3 linked regions of the Homo sapiens genome follow. The protein of the gene in region 1 purifies or fractionates together with the protein of each later gene. This does not show direct contact. Each region holds a gene or a part of one and is shown in the gene's direction. Other genes may lie near its edges.

Evidence for each region. The genes of interacting proteins can lie anywhere in the genome.
Region 2: the proteins of HTR2C (region 1) and TBC1D15 purify together in Homo sapiens (co-immunoprecipitation; 3 studies listed by BioGRID and IntAct, with this or other methods). This does not show direct contact.
Region 3: the proteins of HTR2C (region 1) and RETREG2 purify together in Homo sapiens (co-immunoprecipitation; 3 studies listed by BioGRID and IntAct, with this or other methods). This does not show direct contact.

Annotation. Positions count from the first base shown.
Region 1 is NC_000023.11:114,727,081-114,734,100, forward strand, and holds part of HTR2C (5-hydroxytryptamine receptor 2C isoform a precursor), read left to right. Parts: intron 1-3,541; exon of another isoform or gene 3,542-3,696; intron 3,697-4,213; coding exon 4,214-4,527; intron 4,528-7,020. UniProt on the Homo sapiens protein: G-protein coupled receptor for 5-hydroxytryptamine (serotonin).
Region 2 is NC_000012.12:71,835,063-71,842,761, forward strand, and holds the start of TBC1D15 (TBC1 domain family member 15), read left to right. Parts: upstream 1-4,696; 5' UTR 4,697-4,719; coding exon 4,720-4,749; intron 4,750-6,038; exon of another isoform or gene 6,039-6,169; intron 6,170-7,699. UniProt on the Homo sapiens protein: Acts as a GTPase activating protein for RAB7A. Does not act on RAB4, RAB5 or RAB6.
Region 3 is NC_000002.12:219,174,027-219,181,277, forward strand, and holds the start of RETREG2 (reticulophagy regulator 2), read left to right. Parts: upstream 1-4,248; 5' UTR 4,249-4,326; coding exon 4,327-4,607; intron 4,608-4,682; exon of another isoform or gene 4,683-4,895; coding exon 4,896-5,002; intron 5,003-5,706; coding exon 5,707-5,737; intron 5,738-6,083; coding exon 6,084-6,219; intron 6,220-6,643; coding exon 6,644-6,728; intron 6,729-7,035; coding exon 7,036-7,179; intron 7,180-7,251. Other genes in the region: protein CNPPD1, read right to left, coding at 120-181, 752-880, 962-1,082, 1,565-1,646, 2,197-2,305, 2,734-2,802. UniProt on the Homo sapiens protein: Endoplasmic reticulum (ER)-anchored autophagy regulator which exists in an inactive state under basal conditions but is activated following cellular stress.

The DNA of each region.
Region 1 (7,020 bases):
GCATAAATGGCTTGCTTCCCAAAAGACTAATATTATGGGTGTTTCCTATTCAAAAATAATTAATGGAAAAAAAAATTTGGACTCTAATTAAGCACTTGAGCTCATATACTTAAACAAGTAATATGGTGATAATGCCCTAAATTCAAATAATCTCAATGTTCATGGCTACTTTTTCCATGGGTAAAACTTAGAAAGGAAAAATTTCTGTCCTTTTCCTTCTTGCATGAACTGAACAGTTAAGAGAATGAAATGCCTCTGGTTTTGTGAAGAATAGTTGAGGTAGGAAAAGAAAAGGTTGGAAGTTAGGGGATAGGGCTTGGCGATGTAGCTGGATGGGAAAAACCAATGTCATCCTCAGAAGTATTGATGCAGTGACCCAGTTGCAGCCAATAATATACAACATAAAGGGTGTAGGTAAAGATACAGGAGATTCAAATAATAAGCAATTCTAAATTTGATCTAATCCAGGTATACCTTCTTTTTACATAGAAAAATGTTGGTTTCTTCCGAACCTGCTTTTTGAGGAACGAAGCATAGAAAAAAATGATCCAAAGCAATGTAAACTCTGATTGGTATAGTTGAGAAACCCCAAATCTCCTTGCTCCTAGGTAGTCTCCTTTATGATTCTTGTAAAAGAGCTCACCCAGGAAAAAGTTTACAATGTGGTGGAGATATAAAGTTCAGCAACATTGGATCCTCTGCAGTGTGCATCACTGTGGCCCATCTTGAGTGTCATTGTTGTGATGATAGTTTCAAGTATGGAAGAGTCCAAGAGAACTAGAGCAGACAACTGGGAAAGAAAAGAGTGAAGGACAGTGATAAAGAAGGGAAAAGAAGAGTTGGGTATGGGAAAATGAAAGGACAAGTGTTCCTGCTCCATGGGCCTGTGCCAACTTAGTATATAGCCATTGGCCCATATACCAAAGTGTAGGACTGCCGTAAAGGGCACCAAATTATTCTGCTATGAAATTAATTAAAGAATTCATATACAATTGTTTTAAATTCTATTGAGAGAAACAAGGAAGAATTCCTGTCTTCTAACAATGTCCTAGGTCATAGAAAAACTCAGTAGATTTTAAATATATTCAACTTTTTAAATTAAATTATCATTTTGTTTATATACTAAGAATGTAAAGTTATGTTTTCATTAAAACTTTAGTAGCAATGAGTAAATTATATGCATTTCAGAGAGAAATTATGACTTTTGTATACATATTTTATGAGATTCCTATGAGCTTAAAAACAATTAGGATAAACTTTAAGAGCAAGACCTAAATTACTCCTCTTTTGTAAAAGGACTTTATAATTTCACTGAGCATGTTAAGTATTAAAAATTAGATTTAATTATAATACAGACAATTCTTCATTACAAAACTGAAGAATAAAGGATTAAACTTTAATAAAAATCATAAAATCTTGTCTATAAGTAGTGCTCAATAAAAATTTATTAAACTGAATTTAATTGAAACCAGGAAAGTGAAGTAAATACTTTATCAAGATTTATCCTAACACCATTACCTTATTTTGTAATTCACAACAGATATGTTTACATCTGACAAGACTCCTTCCTTCAATAATTCAGTATTTGTCTTACAGATTCTTTTATTAAAAAAAAATTTTCTGACCAGTAGGGATAGGCTAGATAACTACTTGAAACAGTCCAAACTCAAAGATACTCAAATTATAAAATTCATAATTTGACATAATTTTCTTCGTATATGTTTCTGTTATATATAATTTGTCCTGTACCCCTCTACCATTTTTAGAGACATATGAATGAATTTCGATGTTTTCACAATTTACTTAGAACATTTGAGGCAGACTGCATATTCCCCTAGGACCTTATTCTATAGGTTTAAGGATAAATGTATTTGTCATTCTGCAATCAACAACTGAAGACGCAGTTTAGTATTTGAGATAAATTCTTGTGGGACTACTTGAGATGATCTTCAGCTAATTTAAAACAGAACATTGTTTTTTAAAATGCCAGCAGGACAAGTTTTTTATCAGCTAGGCCAGAAAGGACTCTGGAAAACGTGCTGGATTTAAGATTACTTTTTTGAGTCCAGTTCTTCACACATAGACGTCGTCTCAAAATAAAATCAAGACTTAAATTATCCTGGCAAATTTTGAAATACATGAGTTGGGATATAGCAAACATAAAATGCTTTTGTTTAACTACAAAGCAGACAGAAGGTACCTCCAGCATTTACTGAAGGCCTCTTATGACACAGGTATTAAAGTTTGACATATATCATTTAATTTTCACAACAACCATATGATGGAGATTGTTCTTGTACAGATGAAGTTGATGTTCTGATAGGTTAAGTGACTGGTCAAAAATTACTGAAGTCAGATAGCCAGGACATTGGCCACATGCCACATTCAATAAATACAGTGACAGAGTAATCAAAGCTGAGAGCGAATAACTTGCTTCTGTTTATTTGGTCCTTTATTTCACTAATTTTTACTCATATTAATCACAGATTAATTATGACATAGATTTTGGAATCCTGTATTATTTTTGCCTATTTTTTATGTTTTGGGAAAATAATACATTTGGAAGAATTTACTGATTACTTCTCATCATTTGATAAGAATTACGATTTCTCTGATAATGGTAGTCAGCAATGAGTCCATTAAATCACACATATATTATCCCTGCCTGGAGATACTATCTTCAGTTCAAAGAACAAGTGACTGGGATAATGACATAAAAATACATAATATGGAGAACACATAGACTCTGAATGTTATGTCATGTGTTCCATCTCCCTAATTTCAGAAAGAATCATCCTTCAACTATCTTGCATAGAAAATTATGTAGCATATATTGTGCAACCAGAGGCAATTTTCTCCTCTATAAATAATATCAAGGTTGAACAACCACTACATATAGGAAATGTATCCTCATGTTGCTGTTTAACATTAATTAAATAACTATTACTACACATGGAATAAACATAAATCACTCATTCACAGGTAATATTTCTTAGTTTTAAGCAGGAAATATTGAACATGCTTGGCTGTCTTGTCTATTTTATGAAGGAAAAAATGTGTAGCTTTATTAGACATTTTAGGAGCTTACACTTTGAGAGAATACTTATGTACATAACTCGAATAAATCTCATGTCGCCATAGGGGGATATTAATTTAGAATGTGCAAATGACAACCACATCCATCTCTGGCAATAGCCTGCCACCTGGCCTGAAATTCCTACTGGTAGAATCTACCAAAGGACCATCATGAGAAATGTACATTTCTAATGTACTTAAATGACTTAAGAGATTTAGTTCCAGTGCATGAAAAGTAACAAATCCATAGGCATTAATCATCACCACAAATCATTATCTAGCCTAGAACAAGGCCCACAAAATATAAGACAAGACAGAAATGTGGAGAGTGGCAGGTAGAAGGAAAGTTTATAGCACAAAACGTTAAGAAACAATTGAACCAGCATAATGGCACTTTGCAAATGTGAGAAGGTAGAAAAACTTCTGAAAAGAAATGAAAGGGTATTCTTGTCAAAACCCACTGTACCTCTTCCAGACGCTTTGCCGGAATTTGATCTGATGGCAACTTAATTCCTTCTTAGCCTTGGATCAATAGAATGCAACTTCCAGTTTCCTTGTTAGGGTCATGGATGCTTTAAGAAAATCCCCCTTCATTCTGTTATCAGCTGTCTCAGAACATATCTAAAGGAATCAGTATTTTAAAAATATAAAGAATAGACTATTACAGCAAATCAAGCAGTACTGTGGTTTCAGATCGCAGTAAAAGTTTAAAACATAGACTTTGAAATCAGTGGGACCTGAGTATGGACCCTGGCCCCGCCACTTACTGGCTGTTTAGGCTTGAAAAAGTTACTTACCCTTTCTGAACTTTACTCAGTCTTCTCATCTACGTGATGGATATAAATTAGAACTGACATCATGAGGTTGTTTAATAAGATCAAATGAGATTATACATATATGTTTCAGCAAACTAAGTGCCTAACTCATAATAATCACTCAATAAAAGTTGGTGATTTTTGGAGAGAAAGAAGAAATACTGAGATTAATTAAGAGAGTAGAAATAATGATGATGACAATGATGCTGATGATGATAATGATGACAATGATCCATGAAGAAGCAGTTGTTTTGCATGAGCAACGTATTGTGTATAAGTAATATAATATGTACCTGATTGTTTTTTTTTTTCTTAATTTTCAGTGTGCACCTAATTGGCCTATTGGTTTGGCAATCTGATATTTCTGTGAGCCCAGTAGCAGCTATAGTAACTGACATTTTCAATACCTCCGATGGTGGACGCTTCAAATTCCCAGACGGGGTACAAAACTGGCCAGCACTTTCAATCGTCATCATAATAATCATGACAATAGGTGGCAACATCCTTGTGATCATGGCAGTAAGCATGGAAAAGAAACTGCACAATGCCACCAATTACTTCTTAATGTCCCTAGCCATTGCTGATATGCTAGTGGGACTACTTGTCATGCCCCTGTCTCTCCTGGCAATCCTTTATGGTAAGTACAATTTTATTCACTTTTCAATCTCGTATAATGTCATAAATTTGTGTCATAGTAAACACTCATAAAGTTAATTATTTTACTTGTAACATTTGGAAAAAGAAAAAAGCAAATCGTGTGACAGAAGGAGTTGGATGTATGTATCATATTTATTAAACAAATCAGTAACAGTCTTCCAAAAGCAAAACATACATTTTATATATATTAAAATCATACATAGATGCTCTCTTGCTTAGTGTCTTTGTAAACAATGAATGAACAGTTAGTTGCCTTACAATGTACTGAATGAGACATTAACAGAAACATCTTTCAACCCCTGTGTTCTGGGCAGTACACATACCTACTACCATCTCTGATACAAAGAAGGAAAAACCGGCTCATCCTCTTTAATAAATATATTTTAAGAAATCCTTTTTTAAAGCTGCCAAACTAAGTGGTTGACACAAAACAGGCACTCAATAATAGCTATTCTTCTTGTTCATGGAGTCTATAATTTGTGTTATTACAAAGAGACAAGAGATAGCAAAATTAATTACTAAGTATATAAGTGTAAGTTCATATCATCACTTTAAAAATTCAGGCATTGAAAGTTTCAATATATTGATTTTAAAGAGGTTTTTAATTTTTCTTTTGATTTTCTTCCATCCCTTCATTCTGTTCATTTTAACCTAAGGTTTTGTTTCTAGCTAATATTTATGATGAACAATCAAATAGTTTATACAACTCTACAAAGTATCTTTACTAGGAAGTTGGAGAGCCCAGTTTGAATTTAATTGCTAATATGCTTATCTCACAAAGGAGTAAAATAGACTTCCAGTTGCCTGGAGTGTATAATGGAATTAGACTAGAAGAAATAATATTGAAAGTGTATCTAGTTGTCGAATCCTAAAAGAAAATAAATGCATCTAGAAAATAATCTCTCATGTAATGTAAAAATTAAGTAGCCTGTTCTATACCTATGGCAACAGTAGATTATCTTAATAGGCATTTTATAAAGTGTTCTCAGAATATATGCTTTTCATATTCTTCATCGAGTTTCAATGATGCATTAGCCTTAAAGCACTAGTATTTTATCTGCTCAGTGGGCATTTTACCACTCTATTGCTCCAAAATTAAGAAAAGATTACTGGAATGAAGTGAAACTATGATTTAGAAGGTATACTGTGTTCTGTGGTGTCTGTTTCGCCAGCTTCTCCCTTTAAAAAAATGTGAGTGGCCAAATAATGATATTAGCATAAATCCAAGTCTCTTAACATATCTATTCCCCTGCCCAAATAAACAAAGAACAATATAAAAAACAAATAAAACTGCACAATACCACCATTAAGTGTGGAGAACATTCAAATTTCAAATTACCTGTAAGTAGGAAAACAAATGGGAAATAACATTGAACTATCTATTAGACTTCTACCCCATGCTGTTGCGTAGAAGAAGAGTAGTCCAGGAAAGATAGCATGAAATAAACTAGAGGAAAGCTATTAGGAAGCCTAAGATTGATCTAAAACCACCACAGGTGGCCGGGCGCGGTTACTCACGCCTGTAATCCTAGCACTTTGGGAGGCCCAGGCTGGCGGATCACTTGAGGTCAGGAGCTTGAAACCAGCCTGGCTAACAGGGTGAAACCCAGTCTCTGCTGAAAATACAAAAAAATTAGCCGGGCGTGGTGGTGGGCGCCTGTAATCCCAACTACTCGGGAGGCTGAGGCAGGAGAATTGCTTGAACCTGGGAGGCAGAGGTTGCAGCAACTCGAGATCACAACACTGCACTCTAGCTTGGGCGACAGAGCAATACTCCATAAAAAAATTTAAAAAAAAAACCACCACAAGCAAGTAAGTCTACCCCAAGTACGAAAATACTGAAAAGTTTCTCTAGAAGGTCAGCTTTCAGATAAGGTACTGAAAAGTATGCATAAGACTCAAGAAAGCAGCCTTGGAAAATTAACTCTTTGGAGGTGGAAAAAGGTAAAAAAGGAAGCAAGAGGTGACTTGAAAAAAAAAAAGCACAGTGAAAGGAAAAAGAAGCAAGAGGGGGAAATTTATCATCTTACAGTACAGAAAATGTCAAAATATTAGGACCCATCACCCCTCCCTCTACTGTCTCCCACTGTCCCCCAAAGGCCCTCCAGTAAAGAAACCATACTTTGATACACAAAGAAAAGAGGATGCTCTTGAGCTTGGAATTTTGGAAGCTACCTACAAACTGTCAGTCATGTTCATAGAAATTCTGAGATGCAACCAATCTTCATCTATACCAAGCTACTATAGAAAAAAATCAGAATATGAGAATAGAAAGAAGGCATTTGATGAACATTCCCTCCAATAAAGAATGATCAAGCCGAAGAATATGCTAGCAAAACACTTCAAAAAAAATCTGCAAACAAGCATGTTAAGGTATTAAAAAATGTACTTTGAAGTAGTAATCTAATAACTAAGAATAGAAATGGTCAAAAAAATAGGACAGCATGAAGGAAAATTAACTGAATTCAGGACA
Region 2 (7,699 bases), on another chromosome or scaffold:
CTCCAGAGCCTCTTCTTCCTCCTTGTCCTCTGAGGCGGCCATCGCTCTTGAAGATTCTGGCTCTAGAAGGACAGCAGTCACTTTGCTTTGCCCAAGGCCCCTGCTGTAATTTCAGACGAGATCAGGTGCATTCAGGGTGGTATGGCCGTAGACCCCTGATATAATTTCAAACAGCATTTTGTCACTTTCCATTTCTGCTTCTTTCTCTATTTCTTACTGATCTTCTATGCTTTCAAAAGTGCCCTCTAACATCTCCTCTACGATCCCAGCCTTCAACATTTCTTTGGACAGCTCCTGCATGGTGGCCTGGACTTCTGTAATCTTCACAAGATTTAGCATCATATTTTTAATTTCTAACAGCTTACTTTTGTTCTCTGAATATTCTTGTTTCGTGGAAGCAAAATCTCCTCTTATCTCTCTAAAGACATTTATTGTAGTTAAAAAGCTTTCTTCTGTTCTCTGCATTGTTAATTTGCTTTGAATCACCTTTTTTGTTTGTTTTGGTCCCTGATTTTCAAATTAAAGATTTTCTTAAATGTAGAATGAACTATGGTTAGATGTTCATCTTTAATAGTTGGGCACCTCAACTTCTTCTGCCCTGAAAAAAAAAAGTTGGGTACTAGAGGCTGATTGGAAGTTTTGGATATAGAGGTGGGAACTTTGATCTTTACTGTAGGATGATGTGGTTGTATCATTTCACTCTCTCTCTCTTTTTTTTTTTGAGACAGTCTCGCTCTGTCACCCAGGCTGGAGTACAGTGGTGTGATCTCGGCTCACTGCAACGTCTGCCTCCCGGGTTCAAGCAATTCTCCTGCCTCAGCCTCCTGAGTAGCTGGGATTACAGGCACATACCACCACATCTGGTAAATTTTTGTATTTTTAGCAGAGACGGGGTTTCATCAGGTTGGTCAGGTGGGTCTTGAACTGCTGACCTCATGATTCGCCCGCCTCGGCCTCCCAAAGTGCTGGGATTACAGGTGTGTGCCCCGCAGCTGGCCAGTTGTGTAATTTCAATGAGGACACCCAACTGTTAGTAACTAAAGGTCTGATTTCCTCAGTTGGTCAATTTCTCCAGAAATGAATCTTGTAATCACTTGGCTGTCATTAAAATCCATGTTCTCTCCATGGTACTATCTTGATTAATTAAGCACTAAAAGTCTGTAGTCTAACTGTTATAAGAATTCAGGAGAGGTAGAGATCAATTAGTGGAAACGCTGGGGAAAACTTAATAGATGAAGTGGGACATGGGATAAGCTCAAAAGACAAATAGGCCAGCCAGAAACTGAGGTGAAAGAGAATCAAAGTGAACAGTAATTAAATGCTGTAGTTCAGAAATAGGAATAATCACTTTTAGCTGATAATGTAGCACAGCTAAATAAGACATGTATATGGAATGAAGTCTCTATTCAGCCATGAAGCAGCTTGTGACTTCTGCAAGGTATTACTCTAAGACATTCAATTTCTTCACTTGAAAAACTTGGGGAGATTATCTTCAAAGTCCTCCCTAGGCCTAAGGTTTCTTTATGGCATTTACTATTAAGATTCTTTTGCATTATGTAACTTTGCCAGTAATAAATTATAATTAGTGAGTGACTATATAGTTTATAGGAGTGAATCTAGGAGCTCTGAAATTACTGTCATGAAAACATTAATTTATAGGGAACTTAAGGACTTTATTTACATTAAATCTCATATGCTTTAAATCTCATATCTCCTACTGCTTTAAAACAATCTGTCCACTTGCTATATGTAAGTGTACTCTGATCATTCCCTCTAATAAAGTAAAAAATTAAAACCTGAAACTAACCCCTTCTGAAATCCTGACCTTGTTTTTTCCCTTTGCATATAGACAGAGGATATCATTGAAGAAGGAAAATAGGTCTATTTCCTCTATTAATGTATAACTGTGCCATTCCTAAATGGGAGAATTGATTCAAATTAATTTGTAACACATGATAGCAACACTTCCTTGAGAAACTGTTCTAGCTACATCTCTTGTTCAGCAAAGTGTACTAATTTTCAGAGAACAAAAGCAAAATAAAGTTTCACTTAAGACTATGCATCTCAAAGTTTAATGTACACACAAATCAGGGCTTTTGTTAAAATGCAGATTTTTCTGTAGTTCTGGGATGGGATCTGAGATTCTGCTTTGCTTTTCTTTTCTTTTTTGACAGAGTCTAGCTCTGTTGCCCAGGGTGGAGTGCAGTGGCATGATCTTGGCTCACGGCAACCTCCACCTCTGCCTCCCAGGTTCAAGTGATTCTCCTGGCTCAGCCTCCTGAGCAGCTGGGACTACAGGCATGCACCAACACGCCAGGCTAATTTTTGTATTTTTAGAAGAGACAGGGTTTTACCATGTTGGCCAGGCTGGTCTTGAACTGCTGGCCTCAAGTAATCCGCTTGCCTTGGCCTCCCAAAGTGCTGGGATTACACGCATGAGCCACCGTGCCCAGTTAGATTCTGCATTTCTAACAAGCTTTCAACTGATGCTGGTGCTGCTGGTCTGTACACATACACTTTGAGTAGTAAAGGCTTATACTTTTTTGATGTATGATTAGCTCACTCAAGTCAGAAGTCCAGTGGCAGTGGACACAGGGACTAGAGTTTAGGAAAGAGAGACTTGGGCTGGGAATATTTGGGAGTCATCAGTACATAGGAGATTTTGATGCCAGAATATGAGGATAACGGCCCAGGAATAGTGTTTGGAGAAAAAGGAAGAGAGGCCCAAGGCCAGCCCATGGGTAGCGCCATTATTTAAGGCACACTTGTAGGATGAAATTTAAGAAGGTCAAGAAGTAGCAGATGAACCTGAGATGCCAATGATGCTTTTCAATGAGAAGCCTGTAGTTCTCAAACTTATATTTTAAAATATAAGTAATAACTACATTTATTGAGCCTTTTATTCCTGGCACTGTGCTAAGGGCTTCAAATTTTCTCTAAAACACAGGGTGTAAGAAATGTGATGTCACATTAAAATTTTTCTCTAACCACATCCCAATGCTCTGAGCTGGTGGAAAATGTAATTTGGGTCATCAGTAGGATTTTCCACTCCACACCCAAGATTATATGAAGGTTCTAGGGGTCTTAGTCTCAGTCCAGTACATTTGGAAAAGGCCCTCTAGTCTTCACTCAATGCTGATTACTGCTAATATTCTCATTTTCCCACCTCATTCATCCCTTGTAGGTGAGCTGCTTTCTTGATTCCCTGCCAAGCTTGGGCATAAGGGTCTTGGTCATGGTTGGAATCTCAGATACCTAGCACGCAATCTCCCTAATATGCTACGCATTCATTCCCACCTAAGGTTCCACCACTTTCCTCACCTATTAGGTTCCTGGTAGTCACATAACCGGCAACTCTCCTTTTCTGTCGTTCAGCTAGTTGCCACCTACCTCAACCAAACTCAAAAGCCTCTAACCCCTCTCCACTGTGTGAAGACGGAAGTACCTCAATGGACACAAGTGTTTTTGGTGAAAGGGACTTTTTATTCTGCCCCGGAGCTAGGGAAATCCCAGATCTGTGCCAGAGTTATCAAGGGGGTAGTATATAATCATTCTCTGCATTCTTTTACAGCACTGAGAACAAGTAAAATTCTTACCTTAGTATCTTTACAAATCATTTTACCACACATGTATTGTCGTATGAAATCCCTACAACCACTCCATGCAGGAGTAATTCCCAGTTTACATCCTGAAGCTCTGATAAATTTAGAAACCTGCTTTAAGTCACAGAGCTAATAAGTAATGTGTAGGTGCTATAAACTATGTGCCTTGGGCTCTGCAGCTATGAGGGCGTGGTATTATCACAGTTCCTATCGAAATACCTTGCTGGAGGTCATGTGTGAGTGGCAGTGACCAGACAAATAGAGAAACCTCATATACAGAGGGGAAAAGTCTCCATGTATAGTGCCTGGGATATCTCCATGTTAGTGCTGCTCTTTCTTGGATCTTCACCGCAACGCCACTATCTTGATTTTACTATAAGAAACTGAGGTTTCGAGTGCACTGGTGATTTGCCTACTGCCACAAAACCAGGCTAATGGGCTGGGCGCGGTGGCTCAAGCCTGTAATCCCAGCTCTCTGGGCAAAGGCTGAAGCGGACGGATCACCTGAAGTCAGGAGTTCGAGACCAGCCTGGGCAACATTGGCGAAATCTCGTCTCTAATAAAAATTTAAAAATTAGCTGGGCGTTTGACGCGCGCCTGTAATCCCAGCTACCCGGGAGGCTGAGGCTTGAGAATCGCTTGAACCGAGTGGCGGAGGCTGCAATGAGCCGAGATCGCGCCACTGCACTCCAGCCTGAGCGACAGAGCGAGACTCCTTTTCTACAACAACAACAAAAAACCAGGACAAATCTTGCTGGCTTCCAGTATGGTATTCGTTTCATCTCACCAAACTGGCGTGGCCTGCGCTAGCTTCAGAGTCTCGACAAACTCCAATACAAGTAAGGTACACATTATTTTAGCAGTCTTCCTTGGGGAGGACGTGGGGCAAGCACAAGCGTAGCGTTAGGCCTGAGACTCCACCCCAGCCGTCTCTGAGCCCAGTTCAGCACGCACGCGTCAGGCGGCTTTTTTCCGCCCGGCTCCTTTCCTCCACTCCCTTCCCGCCACTCCCCGCCCTTTTCCCGCCCGGATGTTATTCTAGTTTTGCCGGATGTTGTTGTATGTCCGAGAGACACGTGAGGTTCTGCTACGTCATTACCAGGCACGCGCAGGAAACATGGCGGCGGCGGGTGTTGTGAGCGGGAAGGTAGGTAACGGCCTCCAGGAAGACCTCGGCTTTTCTCTGGGACGGGGATGCTTTTGCTCCCTGGCAGCTGGTTGGGGGAGGGACACGAGGGACTTTCTGTGTCCGGACAACCCGTGGCGTCTGTAGGAGAAGACTGGGTGGTACCAGCTGGTTTCCCGAGAATGCCAGTTCAGCCGCGGAGTTATAGAGCCGGCTACTGCTCCAAGGCCAGCTAGGCCTCGGCGCTCTTCTGCCCCAGAGCAGAGAGGCTTTTATTCGTATTACCTTTACTAAGGGACAGGTGGCTCTCTAGTTCCTTTTTTCCCCCGATTCACTGTTTCTTGACTCTAGTTCTTTATGTCTACTCTTCTGACTCCAGCGTCTTTTCTCTCTTTGAAGCGTTAACCCGACTTGCCTCTGTCTTCTTTGCTACAGTTTGGTGAAGATGTTTATGCTTCCTTCGGGAGGAGCTGAATAGATGCTAGGCAGCTAGCTGTGCGCTTAGAAGAAACGAGTGTATTGGGTCTGTTTTTACCAAGCTGCTGAGTTGGTTGGTGGTTGTGAGCAGCAGGACGTGTTTCCTGAGAGAAATGGAGATTTACACCATCCTGTGCTTGTCTAGGAAGGCGTCCAAATATTTATTTCCTAGGCATTTCAGTAGGAGTATTGGTCATGCTGGTTTACGGAGGTGGTCAGTGACACGCCTAATTTCGTTGGAAACTAGAATTACGTGCGGAGATTTCGTCGAATAGTGCCTATTCGCGTTCCGAGGGCACATCTTATGCATAGTTAGGGCTATCAGCTTTATGATATGCCACCGATAGTATTTCCCAGTGCAGGAGTATTTCATAAACAGCTGGAATCAACTGAAGTGACTCATCGAACACTAATGGTTGTTTACTCATTGCAGATAGCGTCCTCTGTTCCTTGAGTTTCACTCATGTCTCCCTGTTGCTTTCCCTACCCCATTTTGAATTATTTGACAGCGTTTGTGGTTTGGTGTTTGGAGTATTAGACTAGGCGGCTGAATGACAAATATGGGCTTGGTTTTGCTGTTAATCTGAAGTATGACCTTGGAAAATTGGGCAATTGTGACTTTTGTCTTTTCGCGTTCTTTATCTGTAGAATGGAGGAGATGCCAATCATTATTTCTTGTATTGGAGTTGTTAGGGTTATATAAATTTTTTTTTAAAAAAACATAAAATTACACACTTGTACCTACTGGCTCTTTTAAAGGATAGGTGGGCATCCTTTTTTGGATTATTCGTGCTCCTTGGTTGTCTTGTCAGTTTTTTTCTTTTTATATTCAGGGTGGATGCTGATATACTGCTTGACTTACTGCGTATTTGAAGATTATCCTGTTTGATTTTCCATCTAAACTGATCCAGGCTGGGACTTTTCAAGAGGGGATCCCTTCCGTTTAAACATCTCCCTCTTTCAGGTTTGGATTGATTTTGAAAGAATCCTTGAGGCAATGAAGCAGAGTTGTGAAATGAAAAACATTTTTCACTCTTTGCAGCCACTACCTTTCATAGTCTGACTTCTTAAAGTGAGACTTATATTTAGTAATTCTGCTTCATAACCTCATTTATTCTCATTCACTGCAAATTCACATCTATTGCCATCACTCCACTGAAACTAGTTTTCCATGCCAAAAGCTGCTCCTCTCCCAAGTAATACTATCATGACCAACAAAACCCACTTGTTCTTCTCTCAGTAAGTTCAGATCTGGTTTAATGGCATCATCTTTCACCTGGTTGCATGTTAAACATACTTGGAGGCATTCATTCCTATAACACTCTCTAATCAATAACCATGTCCTACCAGTTTTACCTTAAGAGGTTTCTTAAATTTACTGCATCTTCTTTACTATCAGCGCATAGTTCAGGCTTTTAGTCTGCTTCTATTCTTGATTTCTTGGCTGATTTTACTCCTTTTCTACAGTCTCTGCCCTTAATCTTCTCTACACCACCACTGGAGTTATTTTTCTAATGCGCAAACCTGATAATCTCTTGATTTAAAAAGCAAATGAAAACTCTTCACTTTTTTATCGTCAGCATAATAATAATAATAATGAAAGCTGGTTAATGTAACATAAAAAGACATGATACCTTTATGCTTCCCTACTTCCTAATCTTTTTTCTTTAGGAAAGGGGATGGGGAGAAAATGTGTGTGTGTGTTTATTTATTCATCTCCCCTCTCCCTTCAAGTTTTAGCTAAGAGTTCTAGTTTAGAAATCCAGGGGAGTGAATGTTAACCAAGGCTCACAAAAATCACTCGTGATACTTTTTAATAAAAGTACAGATGGTGGGCTACCAGCTCTGTTGAATTAGAGTCTCTCAGTGTCTCCACCTAGGATGTAACTTTTCTTAAAACTCTACTTGCTTTGAACTTGGAGTTTCGGAAAGTGATGGAGGAAGTTAATCTCTGTCTTGTAGGGAAGCAGCAAAAGGTAATGGTTAAGAGCTTGGTCTCTGAAACCAAACTAGTTTCAGAAATTATCTCCACACATTTACAAGCGACTTCAGTAAAATTACTTAACCTCTCTGTGCTTCAGTATCCTCATCTGTGATATGATAACAGTACCTACTTTATTCTTGGTATGAGGATTAATGAGTAAATATATTAGAAACTGTAGACTGAACTAATCATCATGAGGTCAGATCCTGAAATGTTTCATCTGCCCCTAACATAGATTCTGGCACATAATAGGTATTCAGTGAAGAGGAAGAAGCAAGAAGGTATGAGAAAATGAGGAACCAGGTGCCGTGGCTCAGGCCTGTAATCCCAGCACTTTGGGAGGCTGAGGTGGGAGGATCACTTGAGCTCAGGAGTTCAAGACCAGCTTGGGCAACATAACTAGACCCTGTCTCTATGAAAAATAAAAAAATTAGCTAGTTGTGGTGACATGTGCCTGTTGTCCCAGCTACTTGGGAGGCTGAGGTGGGAAGATTGCCTGAGCCTGGGACT
Region 3 (7,251 bases), on another chromosome or scaffold:
CAATTCTCTTTCTTGTCTCCTCCCTCCCCCAGTTACACAGACTCTCATCTCTAGCTCCTATGGCTGAGGACTCAGCCCCCAAATCCCTCGAGCCCTTCTTCCCAACTCCTAGAACCTACCAGCTCTCCAACCAGCTCAGCACCTCAAAGATCTCCCGAGGGTCAGTGTAGAGATGCCAATCCTGTGAGTACGGAGAGTGGACATCAAACCAGACTTGGATGAGCCACAGTCATTTAATAATAAGAGCCATAGCAGCAACTACAACCGCCCCTATGGCTAATGCATATTTGGCACTTACCATGTGCCAGATACTGTCTCAAAAGTTTTTACACATTAACTCATTGAATCACCACCTGCCTGGTTTCACATTATACTCTCCACTAAGCAAGAGGGGAGAAAATGACCCTGAGAATGGTCTGTGTCCACAGGGAGCTAAACATCTAGGGGCAGAGAAAGTATGGACACAAATATTCAGAACCCAATAGGATAAACTCTGACTCAGAGTGTACCCTGTGGGGCCCTGGAGGAATAGAGGAGGCGAGGAAATGTTCTGCTCTTGGCCTTACTGCTCTACGAATCTCCAAAAACTGGTTAGTACTGAAGAGATAGGAAAGGAAGACACTAACACAAAGGCAGGAGGAGGACAGGAAGAGAAATGACGAACCAACAGAAGACTGAGAGAGAACAAAGGACTAAAGGACGGTTAAAGATGGGCCAGGGAAACTGAGCAAGAGAGAGAACAGCTGCTCACCATGGCACTCAGGAAGCCCCTCTCCAAGGCATTGAGAGTGGGCACGGCCACACCCCCAGCAGCTCCCCATTCGTCGTTGAAGACCTCCTCCTCCTCCCCTTCATCATAGAGGTACTTACTGGCCACCATCTGCAGAGGAACCAGAAGTGGTGGAGCAGAGCTCATAGCAGGCTCTTGGCTCTTTAGGGAGATGGGGAGGGGGTGTCTTACCATGGAGATCAGGAACAAGTCAGAGGATGACACATGCTGCAAGTAGTCTGGGTTTCGGTGCCGGAGCCGTTCAATGTACACCAGAGCCAGCATCATAGCACATGGGGAGATGCATGCCTCCCTGGGTGGTAGAAAGGATCACTAATTAAACCCAAGGGTCCTTCAGCTCTTGCAAGTCTTATGATGCTCGTTCCTGTCTTTACCTCTTATCTTTGGAAAAAAACTATTCCTGGCTGGGCACGGTGGCTCATGTCTGTAATCCCAGCACTTTGGAAGACCAAGGTGGGTGGACTGACACCAGGAGTTTGACACCAGCCTGGCCAACATGGTGAAACCCCGTCTTTACTAAAAATACAAAAATTAGCCAGGGGCGGTGGTGTGTGCCTGTAGTCCCAGCTACTGGGGAGGCTGAGGCACAAGAATCACTGGAACCCAGGAGGCGGAGGTTGCGGTGAGCCGAGATTGTGCCACTGCACTCCAGCCTGGGTGACAAAGTGAGACTGTCTCAAAAAAAAAAAAAAGAAAGAAAGAAAAGAAAGAAAAGACGATTCCCCTTTCTCTAGGGCCCAAACACTCTCATCCTATCCTCATTTCCAGGCTCACCGGGACACATGAGCTACATATTTCTTCTGGAGTCGGCGAATAGGGCTGGGGGCTGCCTTCTGGAGCAGTTCGACAGCAATGTCTGCAAGGGACAGAAGGAAGGCCGAGTGAGCAAACAAGCACCCACACCCAACACACCAGTCCCCACTGCTAGCAGAAGACCCAGATCTGTATTTTCTGAGGCCTTGGGGACAGGACCATAGTAACAAAATAGAGATCAAATTCTCACACACTGAGACAAAAAGCCCATTCCAAGTTCGAATTTCAGCTCATTCTAACAGGAAAGCTTATTGCCCTGTCACATCAAACTATCCAGATTTATCTGTCACTGCTGTTCATCTGTGGCATAAACATGCCTTGTTTACTTGGGGAACATATGATGGATATCCTTCGAAAATTAGCTTTTCAATATATAAATCAAGAGTGATTTGTATAGATATATGTGGCAGCAATGTTTTTTATTCATTTGGGCTAAAAGAATGGGAAATGCAAACTGCCCTCTTGAACCAAGTACCAACGAGCTAGCAATGAAGAGACAGTGTAGCCACGGGGCAAACCTCGAGCCATTTTCTGCCTGATGACAATCCCATTTTCATGCTTCTCACTTGTCCAGTCACACAACACTGCCTAACCTGCCACCGGGCTGGAGAGCTCCTCCAGGCTACAGTCGGCTTCCCAGTCCCAGCCATAGTAGAGCCTCCTTCGGATCCGGGCACTCAGCTTCTGGTGTCCTGGGAGGAACTGAAACAGGGCAGGGGCAGCGGAGGGTGAAGGGCACGGAAAGGTATGATGCAGATCCTGGCTCTGGGCTGGAAGGCGGGGCAGGGGACAGGCCGGCCTCGCTGCTAGGGGGCCCGTGCCTTACCCAGACCCGCGTTCTGTAAATCGCTTGCCAATGGCAGCCTGGTCCATAGAGGGAGGAATGCCCCCACCCCCATCGAGGGTTCCCCGGGAGAAGTTCTCCGAGAAGGGCCCTCGTGTGGCCACCCCTACGCCCATTCCTATACTCCGCGGCTCTCCCTCCCGGCCCAAGCAGCCGCGGCCTCAAGGAAGCACTGCTCGAGCAGCTGCCGCCCAGTCCCGGCACAGCAGTCAGGCGAGCTCGCAGCGCCGCTCAGGCCGGGAGGGGCGCGCCGGGAGGCCGGGGAGGGGGCGGGACCCCCACTCACCGTGAAGTCCTGGAAGCCGGCGAGGGAGAAGGTGCCTTCTTCGTCCAGCAGGAGCCCGGTCAGGTCCATCGCGCCGCCAGTCGCCGCCCTGCGAAGGTGAACGGAAGGAAACGAGTTGTAGGGGGCTCGCGGAGCTGTCCTTGCCCGCCTGTCCACCTGCCAGCCTGCCTCCCCGGGGCGGGCCGCCGTCCTCGCCCTCGCCCTCGCAGCTCCCTCCCCCCGGCGGCGGAAGGCGGGGCCCGGGCTGAACTGGGCGCCTCTTCCTGTTCCGCCCCGGGCTTGGCGCGGCGCGCGGGGGCCCTAGGCCCGGGAAGGGAGGTGTCAAGCGTCCGTGCGACGCTCACCTCGCGGAGCAGAAAGGAGATGCGGCTGCGAGGCGCGTACTCCGCCTGTGCCGCGTCCGCCCGGCGTTTACAAGCCGCGGGGGTGCCGCCTGCAAGTCAGCGCCTGGCACTTCCTGCCGCCCATCTGGCCCAGCCTCCCGCCCCGACCCGCGGGCAGGAACCGGACTCGAACTCCTGGTCTCACGGAACGTGGCCAAGCCCCAGGCGCCTCTGAGAAATGGGGACAATTCGTAGGGGGGACCACGCCGCACTGAGGATGAACAAGCCAGGCGTAGCAATGGAGAAGTTAATGTGAATAAGACGAAACGCACAACAGGAAGTTGTTCCCAGTTGCTTTTTAGGAGAGATATTATACATACTCAGCAATGCATATGAAAAGCGTCTGAAAGGACACACAGGAAATTTAGCAGTGGGTGAACTATGAAAAGGAAGAGAAACTCAGGGTGTTTTTTTTTTTTACTGTAATTTGAACTTTTAAACCTAAGGCTACTGAGGAAATTCTGTGATCTTAAGCGAATGTAAGGCCTCAAAACGTGTCAACACGTCCACCCAAAAGTAAACTGCATCTACCCAAGGTTTTGTGTTGAAACCCACCTCCCGCCTCCGATCTCATGCTTGAGTAGGCCGAGGTGGGAAGAAGCTCCGATATGTGGAAGTGGGAAAGTTTAAGGAGATAGGAAAGAAACAACTTTTCTGAGTAGATGTTGTTTTCGAGTCTGTCGAGTCAAGCGCTGGTGTGTGTTTGTTTACCCACTGAGGGGAGGGAACTGGGAGGACCAGTGCGTTGAGGGTTGGTTGAGTAATGGGACGGCCACCGCCCTTCCCGAGCGAGCAGAAGCAGACCCTACCGGGGATACTGGGAATCTGGAAGCCCACTTCCTGCCCCACACGGGGATACCGGGGCAGCACCACACTCCCTAGCCGCCCTGCCTACTGTGGGATAAGAAAACGGGCTCGACTGCCTGGACCTAGACCCGGACTCGGAACCCGGGGTACTTCGTCAACCAGAAAACGAACCTGTGTAGGCGCAGTGTCAGCGGCAGCCGCCGGGGCGCATGCGCGGCCCGCCCTATCCGGGGGGGGGGGGGTTAGGCCGCGTCACGTGACGGGCTCAGCGCTCCGCAGTCACGTGACGCTCGTCCGCAACCTCTGCTGTCCTCCGCGGCGCCCCCTTCCGCCTGACGCGCCCCCGGCGGCGGCCGCGCAGCCCTGGCTCCTCGCGGGCTCGGGCGGCGGCTGCGGCGGGGCTATGGCGAGCGGCGGTGGCGGGGGTAACACTGGCGCGGGTGGGGGGCCGGGGATGGGCCTGAGCCTGGGCCTGGGTCTGGGTCTGAGCCTAGGCATGAGTGAGGCCACCAGTGAGGCAGAGGAGGAGGCGGCCACGGCCGAGGCGGTGGGACGCCTGGCCACGACGCTGTGGCTGCGGCTCCGCGGCTGGGAGGCGGTGCTGGCGGCGGCGCAGCGGTTGCTGGTGTGGGAGAAGCCGCTGCACAGCCTGGTCACGGCGGCCGCGCTCAACGGCCTCTTCTGGTAACGGCCGCGGAGGAGGGGGCGGGGCCGGGATGAGCGGGGGAGGGAGGGGTCGAGAGCACCATTCCCCTTTCTGGGTTATCACTTGGCCTGGGGGCATGACCCATCCCCAGTTTTTGCAGGCTGACATCCGCTTGAATTGCCCATTTTTTTCTATCTCTGAGTCGTGAGTCGCGAGTTAGGCCTGGAGGTGCCATTACCCCATCAGTAGGCGCCTTTCCACCTTCTGAGATGGATGCATGAGCCTGTCTCACCCACTCACTGCTGAGGTGCCTGTCTCTCCCTAAGGTTGCTGTCTTCCTCGTCCCTCCGGCCCTTCTTCCTACTCAGCGTCTCACTTTTGGCCTATTTTCTGCTGGATCTCTGGCAGCCTCGCTTTCTCCCTGACGTTTCAGGTGAGTGTTTCTTCATTCAGTAAGCACCCATTGGGTACTTGCTTGGTGCCTGATTCCGCTGGGTGGGGTTAAGTGGCGAGGGGAACGTACAGCAGGCCACCTGCCTCCCAGGCATGGCCCACTTCCTTTTTGTACGGAATTCCCTAAAATGAGAATTGCCCCTTTCCCAAACTAATACTACTGTAGGTGCAGTGGTTAAGATGGTGAAGTCTGCAGCCATATTACCTGGGTTCCATTCTCTGTTCTGCCATTTACCATTGCTGTGACCTTGTAAAAGTAGCTCAATTTCTGTTTGTCTCAATTTCCTTATCTGTAAAACACAGATGATAGAACTTACTTCATAGAGAGGTGAGGAGAGGATTAATGAGTTAATACACATGCTATACTTATGATAGTGTTTCACATATAAGCCTTATAAATAGAACGTCAGTGTTGTTTTTCTTGTTATCCATATAATTTACTTAGTAGGTGACAGGCTGTATGTGAGTTGCTTGGGAGATAAGCATGAGTAAAATCTAGTTCTTATGTTGGAGAAGGGTAATGTCTAAAGGAGACAGACGCAAACAAAAACATGTAACAGCTCCCCCATTGGCATCTGAAGAAGGTGCTCTGGGGCTGCAGAGGAGGGACAACTATTTCTGCCTTGGGGAGTGTCTCCCAGGGCCCCTACCACTCAATAATTTGCCCCCCTCCTCTCTCTCTAGCATCATCCCCAGAGGAGCCACACTCTGACAGGTGAGTACAGGCCACCTCTTGAAGACAAATGCCCACATCCTGTCCTGCTTGCTGGTGCCAGTGTCACCATGGAGCAGGGCAGTGCCCCAGCATTGTGAATGAACTGGTAACAAGCCATGGGTTTTTCATGGTCCTAGGCTCCTGTGTAGGTGTTTGCGTGCCTGCTCCTTTTGGGGCAGAGGGTTGGGTCCTCCTGGCTTTGCTTCTAAGACCAGGACAGCCTCCTTTTGAGAGGTGGGGTCATTTGCTTTTTTAGACTAAAGATATCTTTGGCATTCTCAGAGGGATTTAAGTGTCTAGGAAGCTGGTATCTGAGGCCTCCAGGGGTCATGTCATGTCTCCCCAGTGAGGGTGCGGGGTCAGGCGCCCGGCCGCACCTGCTGAGTGTGCCCGAGTTGTGCAGATACCTGGCTGAGAGCTGGCTCACCTTCCAGATTCACCTGCAGGAGCTGCTGCAGTACAAGAGGCAGAATCCAGCTCAGGTAACCTCCCCTACATCATACAACAGTTCACTACACTGAAGGGGAATAGAGGTGGCGGGGGATGGGAGTGGAGTGATATAAACTCCCCGCTTGGAGACCCTGAAAGAAGAGGCCTGGGCGCCTTCTTGAGGCAACATTCACAGCTAATCCCTGGTGCAGGAGGCAGTCTCACCTCAGGAAATAAGCTTTTGATAGCCTGACACTTTCTCCTGCCAAGGCAGACCAGTGTGAATTACAGGTGGTGGGCATTATGTATTGCCAGCTTCCTGAATTGGTGGTCTTGAGCATCCTCTTAACCAAACTGGACCACCCCATTCCTTGAGTACATACCCATCCTTCTACCAGCTGAGCAGTAGTTTCTTACCCAGCCGAGCGGGGCGCATATCTCAGCGTGATGTTCTTAGACTTTTGCTCTTCTCTGCAGTTCTGCGTTCGAGTCTGCTCTGGCTGTGCTGTGTTGGCTGTGTTGGGACACTATGTTCCAGGGATTATGATTTCCTACATTGTCTGTGAGTAGGGTCTGTCCCTGCCCTATTTAAAGCCCTCTCCTTTCTTCTTTCCTTGGACTGACCCAGAGGGAAGACTATGCTCTCTCTGCTCAGTTTCTGATTTGTGGAGATCTCCAGGGATGCTTTAGTATTAGTAACTGTGGAAGACTTACCTGGGGAGGAGGGCAGTGGATGTGGCAAGAAGAGGTTGGCACAGCCTTGGGAAAGGACCTTGCCTACCTTCAGCACTTCAGTTTAGGGACCAGTTGAATGGGGGCTCTTAGGAAATTGGCGTAGGGAGCTCTTAGTTCACGTTCTTAACCCATAGTGTTGAGTATCCTGCTGTGGCCCCTGGTGGTTTATCATGAGCTGATCCAGAGGATGTACACTCGCCTGGAGCCCCTGCTCATGCAGCTGGACTACAGCATGAAGGCAGAAGCCAATGCCCTGCATCACAAACACGACAAGAGGAGTAAGGGGCTGCCCTAAGCCAGGAGGGTGAAAGAGCGGGAGGGCCTTGGCTTGGGGTTCATGAGATGCCCTG